Regions from separate parts of the Homo sapiens genome. Here all the other regions are linked to region 2. The links come from fine-mapping of genetic effects on gene expression. A gene starts in region 2. Each other region holds a variant in brackets. All regions are shown on one strand. Distances are from middle to middle.

Region 1 (8,173 bases), 22 kb before region 2:
GAAGAGGAAGGAACACTTGCCAACTCATTACAAGGCCACTACCCTGATACCAAAACCAGATGAAGACACCACAAGAAAACTGCAGACCAATATCTCTTATGAATGTACGTGCAAAAATCCTCAACAAAATACTACAAACTCAAATCCAGCAATTCAGCCAGGCACGGTGGCTCACACCTGTAATCCCAGCACTTTCGGAGGTTGAGGCAGGTGTATCACAAGGTCAGGAGATCGAGACAATCCTGGCTAACAAGGTGAAACCCCGTCTCTACTAAAAAAAAAAAAAAAATACAAAAAATTAGCCAGGCGTGGTAGCAGGCGCCTGTAGTCCCAGCTACTCGGGAGGCTGAGGCAGGAGAATGGTGTGAACCCGGGCGGCAGAGCTTGCAGTGAGCCGAGATCACGCCACTGCACTCCAGCCTGGGCCACAGAGTGAGACTCTGTCTCAAAAAAAAAAAAAAAAAAAATCCAGCAATACATAAAAATGATTACCCACAATGACCATGGCAAACATATCCCAGGAATGCAAGGTTGGTTAAACATATAAATATCAGTCAATGTAATAAACTGTAGAAATTGAATAAAGGACAAAACTACATGATAATTTCAATAGATGCGGAAGACAAAAGCCAGATGTCTCACTTCTTAGAACAAAACTCCATCTCACCCAATGCCCACAACATCCTACATGATCTGGCACCCATCATCTCTCTGTCCTCACGTCCCTCTCCCACTTCTCTCTCTGCACTAATCACAGTAGCCGCCTTGTTGTTATTCAAACCCATCGGGTACACTCCTGACTCAGGGCCTTCACAGTTGCTGTTCCCTCTACCTGGAACACTGTTCCCCCGAATATCCACATAATTCACTACTTCACCCCCTACAGGTCTTTATTCAACAACTACCTTCTCAGAGAGGTCTCTCTGGCCACCCTACAAAAAATTGCTACCCTCTCCTCCCAATACTCACACTCTCCCTATTTCCTTCCCAACAATACTTCTCTCCTAAGCCTTTATTATTATCTGAAATACTCTGAATTTTACAATAAAATTCACAATACTTATATATCTTGTTTGTTATCTATCTCCCTCAACTAGAATGTAAGTTCTCTCAGGACAGAGACATTTTTGTCTGTTTTATTCACTGCTATATCTACGGCATTGGTTTATTTATTTATTTATTTAGACATGGAGTCTCGCTCTGTCGCCCAGGCTGGAGTGCAATGGCGCAATCTCAGCTCACCGCAACCTCCACCTTCTGGGTTCAAGCGATTCTCCTGCCTCAGCCTCCCCAGTAGCTGAGACCACAGGCACACACCACCATGCCCAGCTAATTTTTTGTATTTTTAGTAGAGACAGGGTTTTGCCGTGTTGCCCAGGCTGGTCTTGAACTCCTGACCTCAGGTGATCCGCCTGCCTCGGCCTCCCAAAGTGCTGGGGTTACATGTATGAAGCACCGCACCCAGCTGCCTATATCTACAGCATTTAAACTAGTATGCCACTTAATTGACAATCAATAAATATTGGTTGAATAAACAAATGAATACAAACAGTTTGTCACTCGACTCTTCACTCAGCCAGCAGTGACTTACCTCACCCACCTGTCCACGTGCCTGACACTGTGCTTCAAGCTGGAGTGCAGAGAAAGACTAGAACCAGACCTGGACCCTGCTAAACTCACAGACAGGGCTGGGAGAGGAGTCAGAACGTACGTAACTGAGACCCCAGGACGACAACACTGGGCGTACTAAGGGAGAGAGGGTCAGGCCCAGCAACCAGGGAGGAATCCATGGAGAGACGGTGGTAAGCTGGCCCTTGAAGGCCTAGAATGCTCTGGACACATGGAGAAGGGAGTGAGGATGGGGAAAGAGAGGGAGAGGGGAGGAATGACTAGGGAATCAAGAGGGGACCTGCGTGGCAGGACTTCAGTGGAGGAATAAGGCTCCTAAGGTTATTGGAGAAGTTCATGAGGGGCTTTAAATGCCGGGATAAGGGGCTGGGCCTAGTTCCACAGGCACCAGGGAGCCATGCGAGGCTTTTGAGCAGGGAAGGGAGGTGGTGTCAGAAAGCTCACTCTGTCAGCCAGGCACAGTGACACATGCCTGAATTCCAGCTACTCGGGAGGCAGCATGGGCAGGATCACTTGAGGCCAGGAGTTCAAGACCAGCCTGGGCAACACAGGGAGACCCTGTCTGGAAGGAAGGAAGGGAAGGAAAAGAGAAAGAAAAGAAAGAAAGAAAGAAGGAAGGAAAGAAAGAAAGAAAGAAAGAAAGAAAGAAAGAAAGAAAGAAAGAAAGAAAGAAAGAAAGGAGGGAAGGAAGAAAGAAAGGAGGGAAGGAAGAAAGGAAGGAAAGGAAGGAAGGAAGGAAGGCGGGTGGGAGGGAGGAAGGGAAGAAAGAAAGAAAGAAAGAAGAAAAGAAAGAAAATGGAAAGAAAGAAAGAAGAAAGAAGGGAGGGAGGGAGGAAGGAAAGAAAGAAGAAAAAGAAAATGGAAAGAAAGAAAGAAAGAAGAAAGAAAGGGAGGGAGGGAGAGAGAGAGGGAGAGGAAGGGAGAGAGGGAGGGAGGGAAAGAAAAGAAAAGAAAAGAAAGAAAAAGCAAGCAAGCTAGCTAGCTCACTCTGGCAGTGTGTGAAGAACAGAAGAACAGACTGTAGTGGGTGAGCAGGAAGACACGGAGACCAGGAAGGTGGCTTCTAGAACAGTTCTGGAGAAAGACAGCAAGGCATGAGCCAGGGAAGGGCAGAGAGGACGGAGAGGAGGGTAGGCCTGGGAGAGGTCAAGGGCTTTGTGACTGACAGTTGTTGGGAAGGAAGAACTGGAGCCTGAATCTCAGGTCAGAACATCCGAGCATTCTACGGAGGCACAGACAGAGCCAAGGGGTGGGGGCGGGATGGCATCACCTCTGAGGGTTAGAGTTCTGGCCGCAGAGGCTCAGCATCGGTGGGTACCATGCCAGACCCAGCAGCTTCCCAGCGCCAGAGGAGGGATGCACTCTGGCCCTGCCCGCCTTTCTGCCCCTCAGCCCCAACCCCCAGGGCAGGCCTAAAGAAGAGTTTCTCCAGCTGGCTTTGGCGGCCAAGACGCAATGTCATTTCTGGATGAGACAACCAGCTCTAGAGATGCGCCAGGCTGCAGGGTGCAGGGGGTGAGGGGGGGGCAGCTGTGTCCCCAAAACACAGCCAAGGAGCACCTCCCAGAACCAACCAAGACAGTGGCAGAAGCAGGGCTGGCAGGGGGCCCCCAGCCCCAGCTGGCTGGTACAGGGACAGCTTTGATGGGGCCTCCATCTGCCTGGGCCCCAGCCTCCCTGTGAGGTCAGGCCCCACCAGCCCCCATCAGCTCCCACCAGCCAGAAGTGATGGTCCCCTCCCTCAGTCAATAAGCATTAAGGGATTTACTAGTGCCTGGGGTGTGCCCCGCTGTTTCTGGATCAGTGCACTATGAAGGACACAGACTTTGGAGGCGTCACGGCCAAGTTGGAGGTTGATTGTTTGTTTGTTTGTTTT[G/C]AGACAGGGTCCTACTCTGTCACCCAGGCTGGAGTGCAGTGGCATGATCAGAGCTCACTGCAGCCTCTATCACTGGGGCTCAAACAATTCTCCAGCCTCAGCCTCCCCAGTAGCTGGGACTACAGGCATGTGCCACCATGTCCAACTAATTTTTTAATTTTCTGTAGAGACAGGGTCTTGCTACATTGTCCAGGCTGGTCTCTAACTCCTGAGCTCAAGTGATCCTCTCACTTTGGCCTCCCAAAATACTGGGATTCCAGACGTCAGCCACTGCACCCAGCCAGGTGTTGGAGTTTTGTCTGTCCCACTATTTACCTGATTCTATCTGTGGGCTTCAGTTTTCCAACCTGTCAAATGGCATAAGAAAAAACCTTCCAGGCTGGGCGTGGTGGATCATGCCTGTAATCCCAGCACCTTGGGAGGCCGAGGTAGGCAGATCACTTGAAGTCAGGAGTTTGAGACCAGCCTGGTCAAAATGGTGAAACACCATCTCTACCAAAAATACAAAAATTAGCTGGGTGTGGTGGCATGGGCCTGTAATCCCAGCTACTCAGGAGGCTGAGACAGGAGAATCACTTGAACCTGGGAGGCAGAGGTTGCAGTGAGCTGAGATCGCTCCACTGCACTCCAGCCTGGGCGACAGAGTGAGACCCTGTCTCAAAAAAAAAACCAAAAAAAACACAAAAACAAAAACCAAAAAACACAACAATTAGTGGCATGCCCCTATAATCCCAGCTGCTGGGGAGGCTGAGGCAGGAGAATTGCTTGAACCTGAAAGGTAGAGGTTGCAGTGAGTCTAGATCGTGCCACTGTACTCCAGCCTGGGCAATAGAGAGAGACTCCGTCTCAAAAAAATAAAATAAAATAAAATATGAAAAGAAAAAACCTTCCCCACAAAAGTGTCAGTCGTGAGGACTAAATAAGAGCACGTGCAGAAGAGAATGACAAGACTTTCTAGTCTTCAGGAATTTCTGCAGAGACCCAAGGCTGAGAACAAGGGATGAGCAGTGCCCACATCTCAAGAGAGGTGCCAGCACACCTTCAGGACTCGGCGAGAGAACAGAGCTATCCCATTTGGCCCCCCACTGCTTGCGTGGAAGTCATGCTCAGGGGAGGATTTATTGAAAGAGTTCTGCTCTTGACCAGGCGCGGTGGCTCATGCCTGTAATCCCAGCACTTTGGGAGGCTGAGATGGGCAGATCACTTGAGGACAGGGGTTCGAGACCAGGCTGGGCAACATGGCAAAACCCCATCTCTACTAAAAATACAAAAATTAGCCTGGTGTGGTGGTGCACGCCTGTAGTCCCAGTTGTTCAGGAGGCTGAGGCAAGAGGATTGCTGGAGCCCAGGAGTTCAAGACCAGCCTGAGCAACATAGTGAGAGCCCCCATCTCTAAAAAAGTTAATAAATAAAGAATAAAGAGTTCTACTCTTAAGCTGAGTGAGGGGCTTCAGGTGACACTCACCCCCCCCCCACAGAGGGCAGTGCTTGCCAGGAAGGAAGCTGGCCTTTTCTCCCTGACTGGACGCTGGCTAAATGCTGAGCCTCCTATACCAGGACAGCCTGAGGGGCGTGCATAGAAGACGTCTTTAGGACACTCAGATGCATGTCATCTGGCATTCGGGGAGAATGGACCCTGGGCCCTGACTCCCCCAAGGGAAGTCTGTGGGTGGGGATGCCAGATGGAGTAGTCTGCAGTGTCGTGGGAGGGGAGAGGGCGGCAGTGGGGGAGGCCTCCCTTCCCGACATCCTACAGGGCTCAGATGGACACCGTGGAGGGAGACACGGTGCTCATGAGAGGGGGCCCCTTGCAGGATTGCCTACCGGGGCAAGACAGCCTGGCTGGAAAGGCAACCCTTGCATCAAGGAATTGGGCAAAGCAAAAACCAGGGCCAGAGACCCCAAAACGCCCACAAAGTACCCCCCACACCCCGCCTCTGGGCATCTGCCACATGTGGGGCACCGACAGTCAGCAGAAACAGCTCCGGACACAGGCAATACTTGGCCTGTTCTCAGTCATCCTTCCTTGCCTGCTCATCTCTGGAGAGGACAGAATCGCAAGGGGAGGGGAGATGTCAGGGATGTTGGGGTAGAAGATGGAACAAGGAGAACAAAACCGGACGACAGCCCTGCCTCTTCCCAAGGCAGTTTTCTGGTCCGGATAGAAGCTTTGTTTGGGGCTGGGCGTGATGGCTCACACCTGTAATCCCAGCACTTTGGGAGGCCGAGACAGGCGGATCGCCTGAGGTCAGGAGTTTGAGACCAGCCTGGCCAATGTGGCGAAACCCCATCTCTATTAAAAATACAAAAATTAGCTGGGCGTGGTGGCTCACACATGTAATCCCAGCTACTTGGGAGGCTAAGGCAGGAGAATCGCTTGAACCCAGGAGGCGGAGGTTACCGTGAGCTGAGATCGCGCCACCGCACTCCAGCCTGGGCAACAGGGTGAGACTCAGTCTCAAAAAAAAAGGCTGGGTGCAGTGGCTCACGACTGTAATCTCAGCACTTTGGGAGGCTGAGGTGGGTGGATCACGAGGTCAGGAGTTCAAGACCAGCCTGGCCAACATAGTGAAACCCCGTCTCTACTAAAAATACACAAAAAAATTAGCCGGGCTTGGTGGTGTGTGCCTGTAATCCCAGCTACTTGGGAGACTGAGTCAGGAGAATCACTTGAACCCAGGAGGTGGAGGTTGGTTGCAGTGAGCCAAGATCGTGCCACTGCACTCCAGCCTGGGCGACAGAGCAAGACTCTGTCTCAAAAAAAAAAAAAAAAAAAAAAAAGCTTTATTTGGAAGCAGGGCTAAAGTTGTTTTGATTTCAGTGGGACCAGACTGTTTAGTTCATGTGTGTGACTAGAGAAGCAATGGGCTCTGGCCATGGGTAGGAGATGCAGCCAAACTAGTGTGAGGACAATAAAGTTGTGGCTGGTTTACTTTTCCAAAGTCCAGTCTGCTCAGTAAACCTGGTTAACATGTGCAAGCGCATCTGTGTCTGCAGCCACAGGGCCCAGGGCCATGGAGCTGGGAAAGGAGGAGAGGTCTAGCCCCTCTGCTTGTGGCTGGGCTGGCGTCATCTTCCCAGAAGCAGTAGCCCTTTCCCATGTTGGGGGACAGGCAGGGCTGGGGCTTTGGGGAGCCAGGGACACGGCTGCACACAGGGACCCTCTGGCTCTGGTCCTGCCCTTTGGGCTCCCTGTCTGTGGACAGGCCCCATAAACCTTGGTGCCTCATGGGACCCAAACAGGTGCTGAGCCCAAGTGGGAACGTGAATTCTGGTGTGAGGATAGAGTGGTAGGGGAAGGCTTTTGGAGGAAGCGGACTTTGAGTTGAGTCTTGCAGAAGGAGGATTTCAGGATGCACAAAAGAGGAACTGGTGTTCTTGGTGGAAGAAATGGACGCGTGCAAAGTCTGGGAAGTGTGTGTGCCCACACGGCTGGCACAGCCAGAGTGTGAGGCCCATGAAGGGGTGTGATGGGATGTGGATTTGGAACACTTGATATTACCATGATTATTGCCCTTAAAGCAGCGTCCACATTGGCCATAACCAATCTGGGCCTTGCTTCCCTCCTCTGTAACCTGGGGAGAATTGCTCTATTTCTTCTTGGGCCCACAATATGCCCTGGCAATAAATGAGTCCTATTTTCTCAAATTAACACATTAACCCAATGCTCAGAGGACACCTTTTACAGTCAGAAAAGCTCAGGCTCAAATCCCAGTTCTGCCCCTTCTTCACTGTGGAACTCCTGGTAAGCTTCTCTCTCTGTTTTTTTCCCCCAAGATGGAGTCTTGCTCCATTGCCCAGGCTGGAGTGCAGTGGCGCAATCTCAGCTCACTGCAACCTCCACCTCCCGCGTTCAAGCGATTCTCCTGCCTCAGCCTCCCAAGCAGCTGGGATTATAGGTGCCTGCCACCATGCCCAGCTAATTTTTTGTATTTTTAGTAGAGACAGGGTTTCACCATATTGGCCAGGCCGGCCTTGACCTCCCAAAGTGCTAGGATTACAGACATGAGCCACCGCGTCCAGCCAAGCTTCTCTTTACTGATCTGTAAAATGGGGATAACAAGCTCTACTCAGAAGGAGTGATCAACATAATTGTACATAAAGGCCGGGCGCAGCATGAGCCTGTGGAAACAGGAGTTCCTCGCCCCCCAACCCTGTCCCCACCTCCATAGAGGCTCTCACTTACATAGGAGGCCAGCAGGGTGGTCGGGGCCAGGACGAGAGCCAGGTAGAGGCAGGGGGCTGTGGCAAGCAGGCTGGAGGCGCAGATGAGGGGCTCAGCTCCTGGAATGACTTTCTTGTACCTCCTCGCAGCTTCTGCCCCCAAGATGACCCCAATGACGCCGGTCATGATGGTCAGTGCCCCAAAAATCAGGCTGATGGGGAAGAGCACAGAAGGGTTGGTCAGCTGGGTGAGCTTAGCATAGGGACTCTTATCCTGCTCCCAGCCCCAGGTCTAGCCCCTCGGCTCAAGTGCATGATCTGGTGTCTACAGGGAATATGGCTGTGGGCCCCTGACCTGACCCAGAACCTTACCCACCCTCCTCACTGATACTCCCAGGGACCAATGTCCCACTGCTCTCCCCTACCCCCTTTCCTGCCTCATCTCCTGTCTCATCCTGGGGATCCCACTGGCCATGTGGGTGATCACCCTGCACCCCAGGTCCC
Region 2 (8,173 bases):
CCCGCGTATGCACAGGCTCAGGGCTGCCATCCACACTGCAGTCAGAGGAGCGGCAGCCCCCTGTCGCTGCTCAGTGCACAGCCCTTTACTTAGGCCACTGTGTAAACGGAAGTCCCTGGAGCTGTACAGCACAGTGGCCTCGCTCATGCACAAACACTGGAAATGCATAGGTGAACATGTACATAAAAAGACGAACGTGTCCTGGCTTGCACGCATGTGCACACACAAGCCTGTTCTTCCAGAGGCACAGCAGTGGGCACCCAGCCTAATGTAGAGAGAGAAAGTGGGTCTCCCAGACACCAGGGTCTGTTTCCTGATAGCCTCTTGGTGTCCTAGAAAGGGTCGGGGTCTGCAGCACCTGCTCACGTGAGCCATGCGGCTCTGGCCCTGTCATTATTATGAAGAAGAACAATCCTCACTTTCATCAGTCAGGAGGTGACTGACAGCCAGGCCCTGAGCTGTACACTCGCAGTTGTCATCCTAAAAGAGGGGGACTGTCATTGCCCCCATTCTACAGATGAGGAAACAGAGGCTTTAGCGGCCCAAGGTTGCCCGTCTGAAGCTGGGGGAGCTGGGGCTCAAATCTCAGCCAGAGGCAGCCTGTCCACACACCCAGAACCACAGAAGGGGAGCAGAAGCCCCCAAGTGGGTCCCCGCAGAAACACCCACACCAAGAAAGCCCTGCGTGCACACCTCTAAGAGCTGCCCCATGCACATGAAGATCAAGGGATCAGAGGAGCAAAGCAAAAAATCCTTGCTCAGGGAGGGACGTGGTGGCTCACGCCTGTAATCCCAGCACTTTGGGAGGCCGAGGCCGGCAGATCTTGAGGTCAGGAGATCAAGACCATCGTGGCTAACACAGTGAAATCCCATCTCTATTTAAAAATACAAAAAATTAGCCAGATGTTGTGGCACAGGCCTGTAGTCCCAGCTACTCAGGAGGCTGAGGCAGGAGAATCGCTTGAACCTGGGAGGCGGAGGTTGCAGTGAGCTGAGATCATGCCACTGCACTCCAGCCTGGGCGACAGAGTGAGACTCCGTCTCCAAAAAAAAAAAAAAAGAAATCTTTGTTTAGACATTTAATTTGTCCCCAATTGCCACTGCAACCTGGCATACAAACTGTTATGTCTTTTTCCCCTTTTAATATTTTGTTTTTTATTTTTATTTTATTTATTTATTTTTGAGACTGAATCTCACTATTTCATCCAGGCTGAAGTGCAGTGACACGATCTCAGCTCACTGCAACCTCTGCCTCCTGGGTTCAGGCAATTTTCCTGCCTCGGCCTCCCAAGTAGCTGGGATTACAGGTGCCCGCCATCACGCCTGGCTAATTTTTGTATTTTTAGTAGAGACGGGGTTTCACCATTTTGGCCAGTCTGGTCTCGAACTCCTGATCTCAGGTGATCCACCTGCCTCGGCCTCTCAAAGTCCCCCTTTTATTATTTTAAATACACAAAGAAGACAGTCATTGGAAAGAAAAAAAGGAGACAACACAGGTAAGCAAAATAAATAGCTAAACGAAAATGCTCCAAATTGTGCCCATCTTCCATTTTCAGGAATGAGGACTCATCCCCTTGTTTTCTCTCCTCCTGGGCTCCTCTCAGCCCCATGGTACTCTAGAGGTGATCCAGAGCCAAGCGTGCACCCACCCTTGCTTTCATCTGTAGCCTACCACCCTGGCCCCATAAGAGCTGTTTCCTGCAAGAACATTTTAGCTGTTTACCCCCACCAGTTCCCAGATGCTCAGCACGGTTTCACTTCTCCAGGTCTCTATCCCCACAGTAACCACAGCCCCCTTTCTTGCACATACAGAGGAAGTGCTGATGGAGAAGGGACCTGGACAGGCAAGACTCAGGGTCTTAGGGCCCAGCCAGGGACCTCCAGGGCTAGCGGCAGAGATAGCGGGTCCCCAGGCTCGTGGGTTCAGAGAGCTCCACACTGGTGATTCCTGGCTCCCATCCACCTCTTGCCCCTTCTCGCCTTTGCGTGCCCTTGGCCCACACTCCAACTCAGGCCTCCTCAGCTTTGGCCTGATCCACTACAGCAGCCTCTGAACTGACTCCCTGGCTCATTTTGCCTCCATCAGGGCCTCAAATCCAATTATATGGCTCCCCATTGCCCAAGGCAGAAAGTCCAAGCTCCCAGTCTGGCACCCAAGAAGCTCTGTTCTCACCCCATACACCCCTTTGGGGTTTTTTGTTTCATGTGTTTTGTTTTGCTTTGTTTTGGCTTTTTGTCTTTAGGGGTTTAGATAAGATCTTGCTCTGTCACTCAGGCTAGAGGGCTCACCGCAGCCTCAAGCAATCCTCCCGCTTCAGCCTCAAGCAATCCTCCTGCTTCAGCCTCAAGCAATCCTCCTGCTTCAGCCTCCCGAGAGGCTGAAGACATCACTGTCCCTGGCTAATTTTTTAAATTTTTTGTAGAGACAAGGTTTTTCTATGTTACCCAGGCTGGTCTCGAACTCCTGACCTCATGTGAGGAGAAGCTCCTGACCTCTGAGCTCCTCAAAGACGATGACCAGGTCTGGGGATGGCTCTGCAGCCCCTAGAGTTTCATGATTCCATAGCCACTCTCTGGCATGCTGAGCTGGTAACTGACAGATCGATGCCCAGGTCTCAGAGATGCCTGGCAGCTGCAGGCACCCTCCTGAGCTCCCAGCCCGGCCTGTGCCTCCCCCTTGTCTGGCCGCACCTCTCCGCCTCGCAGGACTGCCATCAACCAGCCTCTATCTCTGCCCCATGAGATGGTCATTCCTGAGTTCAGGAACTCCAAGTCCGATTTCCTCCCTGGGTCCACAGCAGCCAGCAGGGGGTCCTGCCCACAGTTAGTGCTCAGCCGGTCTTGAATGAATGAATGACAAGAAGAGAAGAGCAAGTGGAGCCTCAATCAGCTGTTGTTATTGTTGTTGTCTTTGTTTGAGACGGAGTCTCGCTCTGTCGCCCAGGCTGGAGTGCAGTGGCACGATCTCAGCTCACCGCAACCTCCGCCTCCCGGGTTCAAGCGACTGTCCTGCCTCAGCCTCCCGAGTAGCTGGGATTACAGGCGTGAGCCACCACGCCTGGCCCCTGATCAGTCTTGAATGAATGAATGAGTGAGTGAGTTAGTGAATGAGTGACAGAAGACAGAGCAGGTTGAGCCCTGAAGCCTGCAAGAAGGAAGGCAGGACGTGTGAGGTTTGCGAGCAGCCTGTTGTCCTAGAAACACAGCCAGCAGGAGCTATTCTTGTCTGGCCCAGGCTACCCTGTCCTCCACCTAGAACCTGGGGGCCTCTGCCTGGAAGTCCTGCCTGCTGTCCTCACCCACCCACCCCTCATTATGTCTCTGGCCCCACCCCCACTGTGCCCTCCCTTAATTTTTAAAAAATATTTATTTATTTATTTATTTTTTATTTTTTATTTTTTTTTTTTTGAGACAGAGCCTTGCTCTGTCGCCCAGACTGGAGTGCAATGGTGGGATCTTGGCTCAATGGTGGGATCTCGGCTCACTGCAACATCCACCTCCCAGGTTCAAGCAATTCTCTGCCTCAGCCTCCCCAGTAGCTGAGATTACAGGTGCCCGCTACCATGCTCGGCTAATTTTTGTAGTTTTAGTAGAGACGGGGTTTCACCATGTTGCCCAGGCTGGTCACAAAGTCCTCACTTCAAGTGATCCGCCCACCTTGGCCTCCCACAGTGCTGGGATTACAGGCCTGAGCCACCGCACCCAGCCCTAAAATATTTTTAATTTTTTAAATAGAGACAGAGTTTCGGCTGGGCGCAGGGGCTCATGCCTATAATCCCAACACTTTGGGAGGCCGAGGCAGGCGGATCACCTGAGGTCTGGAGTTCGAGACAGCCTGGCATACACGGCAAAACCCCGTCTCTACTAAAAATACAAAAACTAGCCTGGCATGGTGGTATGCGCCTGTAGTCCCAGCTACTCGGGAGGCTGAGATAGGAATCGCTTGAACCTGGGAGGCAGAAGTTGCAGTGAGCCGAGATCGCGCCACTGCACTCCAGCCTGGGCAACAGATTGAGACTCTGTCTCAAGAAAAAAAAAAAAGGCCGGGCACGGTGGCTCATGCCTGTAATCCCAGCACTTTGGGAGGCCGAGGCGGGTGGATCACCTGAGGTCAGGAGTTCGAGACCAGCCTGACTAGCATGGTAAAACCCCGTCCCTACTCCTCCTCTACTCAAAATACAAAAATTAGCCGGATGTGGTGGTGCACGCCTGTAATCCCAGCTACTCGGGAGGCTGAGGCAGGAGAATCACTTGAACCTGGGAGACAGAGGTTGCAGTGAGCTGAGATTGCGCCACTACACTCCAGCCTGGGCGACAGAGCGAGACTCTGTCTCAAAAAAAAAAATAAATAAATAGAGACAGAGTCTCACTATGTTGTCCAGGTTGGTCTCAAACTCCTGGGCTCAAGCAATCTTCCTGCCTCAGCCTCCCAAAGTGCTGGAATTACAAGCGGGAGCCACCATGCCCAGCCTGTGTCCCTTCTTAGTTGAGGCTGGATTGGGAACATCAGTTGGTCCTCCCCGATTCGAGCACAGCTGAAAACCACCTCTAGAGGTGAGAACACCAGAGATGGGCCCAGGAGCAGAAAGATGGGTGATGGCTGGAAGGCCACCATGGATCTGCAGCCCCTGGCTGGTGGGCACAGCAGCAGGTACTGCCCAGGGTAGCCATCCCCTCCTCACCTGCAATGATGAACCAGTTCATGTAATTCAGGAGGTTGATGTAGCAGAGGACGGCGGCAGCCACGTAGGCCCTCCACGGGGGCAGGCTCCAGGAGGTGGGCGTGATGGGAGGGGGACACTGCCTGCCTGGCCCTGGGGACTGGCCCTGCAGACCTCCTGGCCCAGGCTCAGGGCACTCCGCTGACATCCCCCCAGCCATGCCAGCCTGCAGCTCTTGGCCTGAGACTGGCGCCAGGATGAAGCAACATTAGCTCAGCACGAAGTCACTTCCTGTGGGGTCCCAGGCTCCAAACCTCAAAGCACCTGCCCTAACTGTTGGGCGTCTTATCGCAGGTTCCTCCTGACCCCACGGCAGCTTCACCAGTGCGATTTCCCCATCGTCAGCCTCTGAGACCTGCTACGGAGGACAAGGGCTCCTGGCACCCCCACCCTGGGGACTGGACAACTCTGTGGTCCCCTTGATCTAGCCTGCAGCTTCAGTGGCTGCAGTGAGGAAGGGAAGCTTCCAGGGCAGGAAATGAGATGAGCCTCCCAGAGTGCTGCTTGCTGTGAGATGGTCTAGCTGCCCGTACGGGACTGTGAACCAATGCCTTGAAGCCGGGGCAAATGAGGAAGGCTGGGCATTGGCCAGGACAGCAGCATTGCACTCGACTGCCAGGCAGGATGAGCACCTACCCAGGATCTAAGGTCCTTCCCGGAAAAACAAAGGTAGCAGAGGGGGCTGCCTACAAGAAGACAGCCTGTGTGCAAAACTCATCAGTGGGGGCTAAATCTGGGGGGAAGACTTCAGTGAGGGGGGAGGGTGTCAGCACGGTCACGAAGCATCTCTTGATAGATTGCTTATTAGTAACAAAAGGAAAAAGAGTAACTATACAGTAGAGGAATCAGACATCTTGACCAAGGGGTTAAAATAAATCACCTGTGAGAGGCAGGAGGGTGTCGTGTGCCTCCAGATGTGAAGGTCTTCGCAGGTCACAGCATCATCTATGTGGCATTCCAGCCAGGAAGGCACAACCGGAATCTCATCATGAGAAGACATCAGCCAGACGCGGTGGCTCGCACCTGTAATCCTAACACTGGGAGGCCAAGACAGGAGGATCATCCAAGCCCAGAAGTTTGTGACCAGCCTGGGCAACATGGTGAAACCCCATTGCTACAAAAATACCAAAAAAATAAAAAATTTTAAAAAAAAATAGCCGGGTGTAGTGGTGTGCGTCCACAGTCCCAGCTACTTGGGAGGCTGAGGTAGGAAGGATCGCCTTAGCCTGGGAAGTCGAGGCTGCAGTGAGCCATGTTCGTGCCACTGCACTCCAGGCTGGGTGACAAAGCAAGACCCCAACTCAAAAAAAAAAATTTTTTTTTTAATTTTTAAAATGAAAAAACATCAGACAAGCCCAAATTGAGAAACACTATTTCTTTAAAGGGACTGTATATTGAAAAATGTCAGAGTCATGAAAGACTAAGAAAGACTGAGGGAGCTAGGCGTGGTGGCTCACGCTTGTTATCCCAGCACTTTGGGAGGCCGAGGCAGGTGGATCACCTGAGGTCGGGAGTTCAAGATCAGCCTGACCAATGTGGAGAAACCCCGTCTCTACTAAAAATACAAAACTAACTAGGCATGGTGGCAGGTGCCTGTAATCTCAGCTACTCGGGAGGCTGAGGCAGGAGAATTGCTTGAACCCGGGAGGCACAGGTTGTGGTGAGCCAAGATCACGCCATTACACTCCAGCCTGGGCAACAAGAGCAAAACTCTGTCTCGAAAAAAAAAAAATATTCTGAGGGACTGTTTTGGATTAAAAGCAACAAAGAGACAAGATAGGCCAGGCGCGGTGGCTCATGCCTGTAATCCCAGCACTTTGGGAGGCCCAGGCGGGCGGATCACGAGGTCAGGAGTTCGAGACCAGTCTGGCCAACATAGTGAAACCCTGTCTCTACTAAAAATACACAAAAAAGTAGCTGGGTGTGGTGGTGTGCACCTGTAGTCCCAGCTACTCAGGAGGCTGAGGCAGGAGAATCATGTGAACCCGGGAGGCAGAGGTTGCAGTGAGCCAAGATCGTGCCACTGCACTCTAGCCTGGGTGACAGAACAAGACTCCGTCTCAAAAAAAAAAAAAAAAAAAAGAGAGACAAGACAATAAGACAATTAAGAGCAGTACAGGATCCCAACCTCGCTCCTGTACTGGATCAACTGATAAAACTGGATCAGGAAGAAATAGCATATCAGCATCTGTGAACTATGGTTATGTAAGTAAATAAGTAAATATCCTTATCTGAAGTATCTAGAGGTACAGGGCCATGATTTATGCCACTCATTCTCAAACGGTTCAGGAAAAAATATTAGATATGTATAGTAAGAAAACAAATGGGGCAAATATTAATAATAGATGAATCTGGGTAAAGATTATAAGAGTTTCTTTACGCTATATGATAAACTTTCTATAAGTTATAAATTATATCTAAACAAAAAGTTAAAGCATAAAATGACAAACCAATTTAAAAATGGGTGAAGAGCCGGGCATAGTGGCATGGACCTGTAGTCCCAGCTACTCTGGAGGCTGAGGTGGAAGGATCACTTAAGCCTGGGAGGTTGAGGCCACAGTGAGCTATAATCATGCCACTGTACTCCAGCTTGGGCAACAGAGTGAGATCCCATCTCTAAAGAAAAAAAACATCAGGGGGACAAAAATGGGCCAAGGAGTTGAACAGACATTTCTCTGAAGATATACAGGTGACCGACAAGCACATAAAAAGATGTTCAGGCTGGGCACAGTAGCTCACGCCTGCAATCCCAGCACTTTAGGAGGCTCAGGTGGGTGGATCACAAGGTTGGGAGTTCGAGACCAGCCTGGCCAACATAGTGAAACTCCATATCTACTAAAAATACAAAAATTAGCTGGGCGTGGTGGCATGTGTCTGTAATCCCAGCTATTTAGGAGGCTGAGGCAGGAGAACTGCTTGAACCCGGGTGGCAGAGGTTGCGGTGAGCTGAGATCACACCACTGCACTCTAGCCTGGGTGACAGAGCGAGACTTCATCTCGGGGGAAAAAAAAAAAAAGAAAGAAAAATGTTCAACATCACAAGTCATTAGGAAAATGGCAGATTGAAGCCACCATAAGATATCAGTTCGTACCCACTAAGACGGCTATAATTTTAAAAAGAGAGAGAGAGGAAATAACAAATGTTGGTGGAGAGATTGAAAGCCTCATGCATTGCTGGGAATGTGGAGTAAGGCAGCCGCAGTGGAACAAAGTTTGGCAGTTCCTCCAAAGGTTAAACATAAAATTACCATATGGCCCTGCAATTCCAATCCTAGGTATATATCCAAAAGAACTGAAAACAGGCCAGGTACAGTGGCTCACACCTGTAATCCCAGCACTTTGGGAGGCCGAGGCAGGTGGATCACGATGTCAGGAGTTCAAGACCAGCCTGGCGAAGACAGTGAAACCCTGTCTCTACTAAAACTACAAAAAAATTATCCAGGCACGGTGGC
Region 3 (8,173 bases), 56 kb before region 2:
CAATGGCACAATCTCGGCTCACTGCAACCTCTGCCTCCTGGGTTCAAGCAATTCTCCTGCCTCAGCCTCCTGAGTAGCTGGGATTACAGGTGTGCACCACCATGCCCGGCTAATTTTTTTTATTTTTAGTAGAGACGGGGTTTCATCATGTTGGCCAGGCTGGTCTCGAACTCCTGGCCTCAAGTGATCCACCCACCTTGGCATCCCAAAGTGCTGGGATTACAGGCGTGAGCCACTGTGCTCGGCCGGCCCTCCAGTCGTTTCTCCATATTGCTTATCAGTCACTTTCTGAATCCCACAAAGGACCTCATCACTACCTTGAGCAAAACCTTTCTAAGGCTCTTCACTGGCTATAGGGTTAAAAATGTCTACGTTCCTGGCCGGGCGCAGTGACTCACGCCTGTAATCCCAGCACTTCGGGAAGCCGAGGCGGGCGGATCACGAGGTCAGGAGATCGAGACAATCCTGGCTAACATGGTGAAACCCTGTCTCTACTAAAAAATACAAAAAATTAGCTGGGCGTGGTGGTGGGCGCCTGTTGTCCCATCTACTCGGGAGGCTGAGGCAGGAGAATGGCGTGAACCCAGGAGGCGGAGCTTGCAGTGAGCCGAGATCGCGCCACTGCACTCCAGTCTGGGTGACAGAGCGAGACTCTGTTTCAAAAAAAAAAACTACATTCCTTAATGATCTCCAAGAGCCTTCACAACTTTTCACAACCCATGACAATCTCCAGCCTCAGATCCTACGGCCCATCTCTCAAAATTACCCTCTGCCACACTGAACATGGAGCTTCTTGAACTCACAGTTATAATACTTCCTGGAGCCTGGGGGAGGGGCAAGAATTGGGGCACTATTCTATAGCCCCTGTCCTCCTATCAACAAAAAAGCCCTTGTCCCACTAGCACAGCGATGATTCAGGACCATGGAGAGCATCCCGCGTGCAACCCCTGACCCCGACCCTGACTGAGGCATGCTCTGCCTGTGTGGCCTATTCACTCTTCCCACTTGTCCTTCAGGAACCCAGCACAGAAACAGCTTCCTCCGGGAAGCCTTCCCCGGCCCACCTGAACAACCATTTCCTCCTCTGGGCTATTGAGTAACCTGTGTATCCTTCCATCACACCAACACTGTGCTGATTTTTGTCTGTGCAAGAATCTGTCCCCCGCCCTTCACCAACAGACCGTGAGCCTCGAGGGCCCGTACCCTTTCTGATTCATCTCCACGAGCCAGTACAGAGGAGGTGCTCAAAGAATGTTTGTTGATTGAATGAGTAAATGACATTTAGCAGGTGCTCAGGAAATGTACATTGATTTGCATCACGCGTCTGTTGCTCTGAATGACTCAGAAACCAGATTCGTCTCCTGGTTCCTCTGGAAAAGGCATTTTCTTCCTGATTGACTCCACCCTCCATTAGCTTCCACCTGCTGTTTGCCTCCACCCTTTGATTAGCCTTCCCCGCAGGTCACCACCCACGGTGGGGAGAAGGCACCTCCTCTCTGCTCTTGCTGTTGCCAAGCTGAGGACTGGTTGGGGCCCCCGTTCCCTCCCCCAGCCCGAGCCTATCTTTGCTCAGAACGCTTCGTCTCTGCCTCTCTCTCCTGCTCAGAACAGATGGCTCTGAGTCCCCACTAACACAGAAGTTCCTGTTCTGCCATTTGAACATTTTTAACACTTTCTACATTACAGAAGCTTCAGTCTCTTTTCATCATGGATGCAGACTATCAGAAATAAAGACTCCACCGAAGGGCATCGAGTCCAGCCTCTTCCCCATCCCATGGAGAGGCTGCACCTCAGAGATGGCCAGTGGCCTGCCCGAGATATTGTAGTGGATGCTACCTTTGTTTTTGTTTTCTGTCATCTTGTTTTCTTTCTTCTTCTTTTTTTTTTTTTTTCCAAGAAGGAGTTTCACTCTTGTTGCCCGGGCTGGAGCACGATTTCAGCTCACTGCAACCTCCGCCTCCTGAGTTCAAGCGATTCTCCTGCTTCACCCTCCTGAGTAGCTGGGATTACAGGTGCGCACCACCAAGCCCAGCTAATTTTTGTATTTTTAATAGAGACGGGGTTTCTCCATGTTGGCCAGGCTGGTCTTGAACTCCTGACCTCAGGTGATCCACCTACCTTGGCATCCCAAAGTGCTGGGATTACAGGCATGAACCACCGCGCCCAGCCTGTCATCTTGTTTTAATTCCTGTTTTGTTTTGGTGCTGAGACTTCCTTCCTCTTCCTAACGGCACACTGGTCTGCTGGTCTTAATGCGGCTATAAACCAAGGCATGGGTATAGGATCCAAGCTAACCCAACTGGAATCTCTTGCCCAGGGCTTTAAATCTTGAGGAGGGTGGCAAAAGAATAGGGATAAAATATCTGGAGTTCTGGCACAGACCCCAAAATAATATGGCCCAGGAACCCTGGCTCCTGAATCTCCAACCTTCTCATCAATTCTATGAGTTCCTGATGTGCTTTCAATGCATCCTTTGCCTGGTAGAGGTAGTCAGTCTGTTTCCGTTGCATACAACCCCACAACCCAAACTGATATGGTCACACAGGAGCACACGCAGTCACACACCTGTCTGTGCTGAGATAAAGCATGGCTCCCGGAACCTCCAGCTGCCTGCTGCCAGCTTTGTCTGTAGAGGCTGCATTAGATTAAACAACCTCCCAAGCCCACCCAGGCACAAAGCAAAGTCAAACACTTCAGGGAATGAAACAGACCAATATTTGATGTTGCAGAGCAACAAGCCAGGGTTAGGGTGTGGGAATCCAGACACACAGGTTCAACCCCCTCAACCTTCAGGACAAAGTGGAAAAAGAGCTTTTAGGCCAGGCGCATTGGCTCACACCTGTAATTGTAGTACTTTGGGAGGCTGAGGCGGGTGGATTGCCTGAGCTCAAGAGTTCGAGACCATCCTGGCCAACATGGCAAAACCCTGTCTCTACTAAAAATATGAAAAATTAAGGCTGGGTGCGGTGGCTCAAGCCTTAATCCCAGCACTTTGGGAGGCCGAGGCAGGCAGATCCCCTGAGGTCGGGAGCTTGAGACCAGCCTGACCAACATGGAGAAACCCCGTCTTTACTAAAAATACAAAATTAGCCGGGCGTGGTGGATGCCTGTAATCCCAACTGCTTGGGAGGCCGAGGAAGGAGAATCGCTTGAACCCGGGAGGCGGAGGTTGCAGTGAGCTGAGATTGCACCATTGCACTCCAACCTGGGCAACAAGAGCAAAACTCCGTCTCAAAAAAAAAAAAAAAGCTTTACTAATACCTGTTGGTATTGGTTCCAATAGCTAGCATACCCCCATGTGGCCACACGCCAACATGGTGATGCACACACAGGTACAGGCACACGCACACAGAGATACCTCCATGCCTGGATAATACCTGACAGCTGGAATGCAGCTTATGTCTGGAAAGAGCAATTAACACATAAAGAGAGTCAGGTCAGGCTTAAGGACTCATCCTGCTGAACAGCATTTTTCCTCCTCTTGACATTCCCAACAAACAAGTCCAGAGTATTCGTGGCTGAGATTACCCAACAAGGGCCTTTAGGCGAGGAAGATGTGTTCTGTTTACCAGACTCCACTCCAGCCTGAGTGGCTGGGTTCCCCCAGGCTGTTATCGTAACCTCGACCCACCAGGACTGGCCCCAAAGAGGCAGGAGGTGGGAGTCTGGGTTGGCTGCAGAGGAGATATTGGTCTCTGTCACTTGCCGCGTCCACCAGCCCCAGAGCTCCCACTCTGCCCCAAACCACTTTAGACAATAGCTTCCTATAAACTCCCAGCTGGGCACCTCGTGTGGCTCAGCCTTGGGAAGTACCGCCTTGCCCTGCCCAGCAACCCAAATATCAGAATGCACTTGAGTCATAAGAAACTACCCTGGATTATAGGATTAAAGCCCCAGCTCCTGGACCTACATCTGACGCCCCTCTGATCCCAGATGGCCTCTCTCACCTCCTCTCCCCGCTCAATGACACACGCACCCTCCTCTCTGGCCATACCACACCCCTCCATGACTCACTGCAAATCTTCTGCCCCACTCTCCCCCTCTTTGTGGGTCCATCCCCTGCATCTAGAATTCCCTTTGCCCCCCACCTTGTTACCAACTCCAAAGCCACTTCCTTGAAGGCTTCTGGGGCACGGAAGCCCTTACTCTGCCCATAGGTGTGCCACACTTGCCTGTCCTGCTGTGGGCTGCGAGGTCCAAGGGCAGGGCTGGAGTCTGATTCACTGCTGGACACCCTGATGGGCACCCGCCGATACCAATGCATGTTTGTAGAGTTGGCATGAACGAGGTTCTTGCTCTTCCTCTACTGGACTCTGGGTGGGGAGGTGGCAGCTGGTGTTCTTTTTTTTTTTTTTTTTTAAGACAAAGTCTCACTGTGTCACTCAGGTTGGAGTGCAGTGGTGCCATCTCCCTTCACGACGAACTCCACCCCCCATCCCCAGGATCAAGCGATCCTCCCACCTCAGCCTCCCAGAGCTGGGACCACAGATGCGTGCCACCACGCCCAGGTATGTTTTGGTATTTTTGGTAGAGACGGGGTTTCACCATGTTGCCCAGGCTGGTCTTGAACTCCTGACCTCAAGCAATACATCAGCCTCTGCCTCCCAAAGTGTTGGGATTACAGGCGTGAGCCGCTGTGCCCAGCTGAGTGTTCTGACCCTTGGGCGGCCCTCACTCATTTTCCGGGAGCCTCGCCTTGCAGGGGTCCTCCCTGGGGCTGTTGGGAGGAAGGTTCAGACCCTGGAGCTGGGCTTCTGTGGGTCTAGACCCAGCCTGTGCTAATCACATGAGGCCCAGGCTAGAAAGCCATGTCAACACACCTCTCAAACACAGCCAGGGAGTCAGGGAGCCACCTAGGTCACACAGCCAGTGAATGTTGAGAGGGACCGTGGCATCCTGGCTCCTGCCCAGTTGCTGCCTCCTTCTCAGGAAAAACAAAATATCCTCACAGATCTTTTACCTTGTAACTTGAAGGGCTGCCTGTTGCATAAGCTCCAAGCATT[G/C]AGTCACGGTCAAGGGCCTGGCTAGCCTGCAGGGAGGGCTGGCTGTGGTGCGGCCCTGCTCCTGGGGCTTGTTGCAGCCAACAGGGAGGGCTGGGGGGCACCCCACAGAAGGCAGGGACAGAGCAGCAAGCATCAGGGGCTGCGCAGGAGTCTCGGTCGTTGCTCTGCCTGCAGCTGCTGGGAGACAGGCACAGCCTGGCACAGCGAAGGTGGCCATCGGTGAGTGAGCAAGTGATCGCCTGGCTGGGCACCAGGGGAGGCGGAAAGAACATGAGAACAAGCCTCCCCACTGCTGCCCGCCTGGAAGCTGTCGATCTCCCACAGGGCCCGCTGAGCCCAGCTGCTCTGAACCCAGTGGCAAGCGTGGGCCCCGCAGAGCCAGCCCTCCCCATACGCTGTGCTGGGGTCAGAGCGTGGACCCAGGGAAGACCGGGGCTACAGAACTGGGCAGGCCAGGAGGATCCCTGCACGGCCACTCAAGTCCTCAGCAGGGTTCTGGGGCCGCTGCGCCCGTGTCTGTATAGGCGTGGGTTCCTCTGCGTGGTTCCCTGGAACTTGGAGCCACATCCCCACCCCAGCACCCAAGTGGAAACTCATCTCCAAGAGCAAGATTCAGCCCCCACGTTTTGTTCAAAGGGTGGAGTTGGCTGGGCACGGTGGCTCATGCCTATAATCTCAGCACTTCGGAAGGCCGAGGCTGGCGGATCACCTAAGGTCAGGAGGTCAAGACCAGCCTGGCCAACATGGTGAAACCCTGTCTCTACTAAAAATACAAAAATTAGTTGGGCGTGGTGGCACATGCCTGTAATCCCAGCTACTTAGGAGGCTGAGGCAGAAGAATCTCTTGAACCTGGGAGGCGGAGGTTGCAATGAGCCGAGATTGCGCCACTGCACTCCAGCCTGGACAAGAGCTAAACTCCATCTCAAAAACAAAACAAAACAAAGAGTGGAATCACGTAGAGGGTGTCCTGTGCCTGTGACTTTGCAGAATGGAGAAGCTGGGTCAGAGTGGGAGGTCCAGGCTGCGGACCCCTAGAGACCCATGCTGAGCCAGCCCCCCAGCTTCCCCACTTCAGGACAGCCCTGCATCCTTGGCCTGGACTGCCCATCCCGTCCTCACCCACTTCCCCTCCAGCAGAGGCACGAGAGGCTATAAATAACACGGCTGTCTACAGGCCCAAAATCCATGGGCTTTGTACTGGCCTCTCTTTATTCAGGGCCCAGCAGCAGCCAGGCTGGAGACCCCAGGCTGGGGCAGCCTTGAGCGGGATGCAGGCACAGGCCCAGGCCTCCCACGCAGAGTGCTGACAGCTCCATTCCCAGCCCAGCCACAGGGTCCTGCCAGCTCTCCAGCCGGGAATTCAAAAGTGGCAGATGTGCCTCAGCCGGAGTCCCCGAGGACAGCCAAAGAGGAACCGAGGCACTGCTGCTGTGGGGACCAACGGGAGGCTTGCAGGCAGGACGAGTGTAGGCAGGGACCTCAGGGCTCCTCTGTAGAGGCGCCAGCGCCCGAAAGTAGGCCTTGTCTCTCCAGGTCGTTGCTGTCCACATCATTGCTGTCTGGGGTCCCTGCAGGAGGAAAGATGCTCAGCCTGCCCGAAGGTTGCAGAAGGTGCTTTGGGACCAGGCCTGGGCCTGGGCACGGGCTGTCAGGAAATCCTCTCTGTCCCAAATGCAGAATACATTCCAGATCCAACCCCTTGTCATCACCTTCAATGCCACTGGCGTGGTCTAGGCACCACTCTCCCCTGGAAGGGGAGTCGGCTATGCCTCTCGGCCTCAACACTGACCCTCCTACAGTCTGTTCTCAACACAGCAGCCAGGGAGATGCTTTGGCAACATCAATCAGACCACCTCGGTGCTCCTCTCCTGGAAGCCCCACAGCAGCTCCCGTCTCACTCTGAGCAAAAGCCACTGTCTTTACAAGGACTGCCTGCTCTGGCCCCGTATCCCTCACCCCTACCACTGTCCCTCTTGCTTCTGCTGCAGCCACACTGGCCTCCTTGCTGATCCTCAAACATATCAGGTGCATTCCCATGGCAGGGCCTTTGCATTGATTGTCCCCACTGCCGGAAGCGTCTTTCCCCAGGTCGCTGAACGGCTCACTCCCTCGTTTCCTCCAGATCTTTGCTCTAGTTTCGCCTGTGCAGTGGGGATCCTTGCAGCCTGCACCTACCTGTCCCTTTTTTTTTTTTTTTTTTTTTTTTGAGACAGTCTTGCTGTCGCCCAGGCTGGAGTGCAGTGGCGAGATCTCAGCTCACTATAGCCTCCGCCTCCCGGGTTCAAGTGATTCTCCTGCCTCAGCCTCCTGAGTAGCTGGGACTACAGGTGTGTGCCACCGCACCTGGCTAATTTTTATATTTTTAGTAGAGACAGGGCTTCACCATGTTGCCCAGGCTGGTCTTGAACTCCTAACCTTGTAATCCGCCCGCCTTGGCCTCCCCAAGTACTGGGATTACAGGTGTGAGCCACCGCGCCCGGCCCCTTTCTCCTTCCTTTCCTGCTTTATACCTCTCCATAGCACTCGTCACCCTGAACATGCTATATCTTTAACCTTTTCTGTTTCTGGTCTGTCTTCACCAACTACAGTGTCAGTTTCTACAGGGGCCTGGACTTGGCCTCATTCTTTCACTCCCCAGCATCTGCAACCTTCCCTGGTACATAGCAGGGGTGTACTAAGCATTTCTGGATGAATGAACAAACAAACTGGCCAGGGATTCAGGGGGTGGCCAGTGCTGTCTGTCCCTAGGGTGCCGGCCCTGAGCCGGGCCTGGTGCAATGGGTAGGGTACCTGTGACAGGCTGCCAGGCCCGGGTCTCGTCTCTCTCCAGGTACAGCGCAGTCAGCAGGAAGCAGCCGCCCCCCAGGGCGATGACAAAGGCGCAGCACAGGAAGCTCTGCTGCAGGCTGCGGAAGCGCTGCAGATAGGAGTCAGGGCGCCTGGCCCGCAGGACACTAGAGATCTGCGGAGGAGAAGGGATGAGTCTGCCAGGCCCACCAGCCTGGCCCCCAGACCCTCCCCACCCCACACACGCAGACACGTCTTACAAGTCCTGTGAGATAGGGGCTGCCAGCGTCTCCCAGGATGTGGCCCACCGTGATCTGAAGTGCCTCTGCCGTCCCCCGGCATCTGGGCACCACCACAGACTGCAAAACATAGGCACAGCAGG

Direction of the effects. Alleles are on the strand shown, and positions count from the first base shown. SD is a standard deviation of normalised expression in the study named. Not every link is listed here.
For the expression in cerebral cortex of the gene that starts at base 4,909 in region 2, allele G in region 3 goes with a higher level than allele C (small effect, 0.39 SD a copy in GTEx).

Evidence for each region. PIP is the estimated chance that this variant, and not a neighbour inherited with it, causes the effect. A credible set is the group of variants that fine-mapping cannot tell apart.
Region 1: its variant is the best candidate, but not a certain one, in a credible set for the expression of SPNS3 in whole blood (INTERVAL, PIP 0.84).
Region 3: its variant is the best candidate, but not a certain one, in a credible set for the expression of SPNS3 in cerebral cortex (GTEx, PIP 0.62).

The regions. Positions count from the first base shown.
Region 1 is chr17:4,452,724-4,460,896 of GRCh38, reverse strand. SPNS3 (SPNS lysolipid transporter 3, sphingosine-1-phosphate (putative)) reads right to left here. Exons shown (of 12, transcript NM_182538.5): 8 at 7,692-7,881. Among named protein-coding and RNA genes, the nearest start is that of SPNS3, 23 kb to the right of the region's middle. The variant G/C (reference allele first, on the strand shown) is at 3,506.
Region 2 is chr17:4,430,676-4,438,848 of GRCh38, reverse strand. It overlaps SPNS3 (SPNS lysolipid transporter 3, sphingosine-1-phosphate (putative)), which reads right to left and starts at 4,909. Exons shown (of 12, transcript NM_182538.5): 1 at 4,683-4,909. The coding sequence starts at 4,881. RefSeq lists an enhancer at 4,193-4,847.
Region 3 is chr17:4,486,205-4,494,377 of GRCh38, reverse strand. SPNS3 (SPNS lysolipid transporter 3, sphingosine-1-phosphate (putative)) reads right to left here. Exons shown (of 12, transcript NM_182538.5): 10 at 8,052-8,150; 11 at 7,795-7,966; 12 at 6,174-6,572. The coding sequence ends at 6,484. It overlaps SPNS2-AS1 (SPNS2 antisense RNA 1), which reads left to right. Exons shown (of 3, transcript XR_001752763.2): 3 at 4,387-4,505. LOC124903899 (a long non-coding RNA gene) reads left to right here and starts at 7,926. Exons shown (of 2, transcript XR_007065583.1): 1 at 7,926-8,173. RefSeq lists enhancers at 3,717-4,217, 3,528-4,727, 7,856-7,935. The variant G/C (reference allele first, on the strand shown) is at 5,004.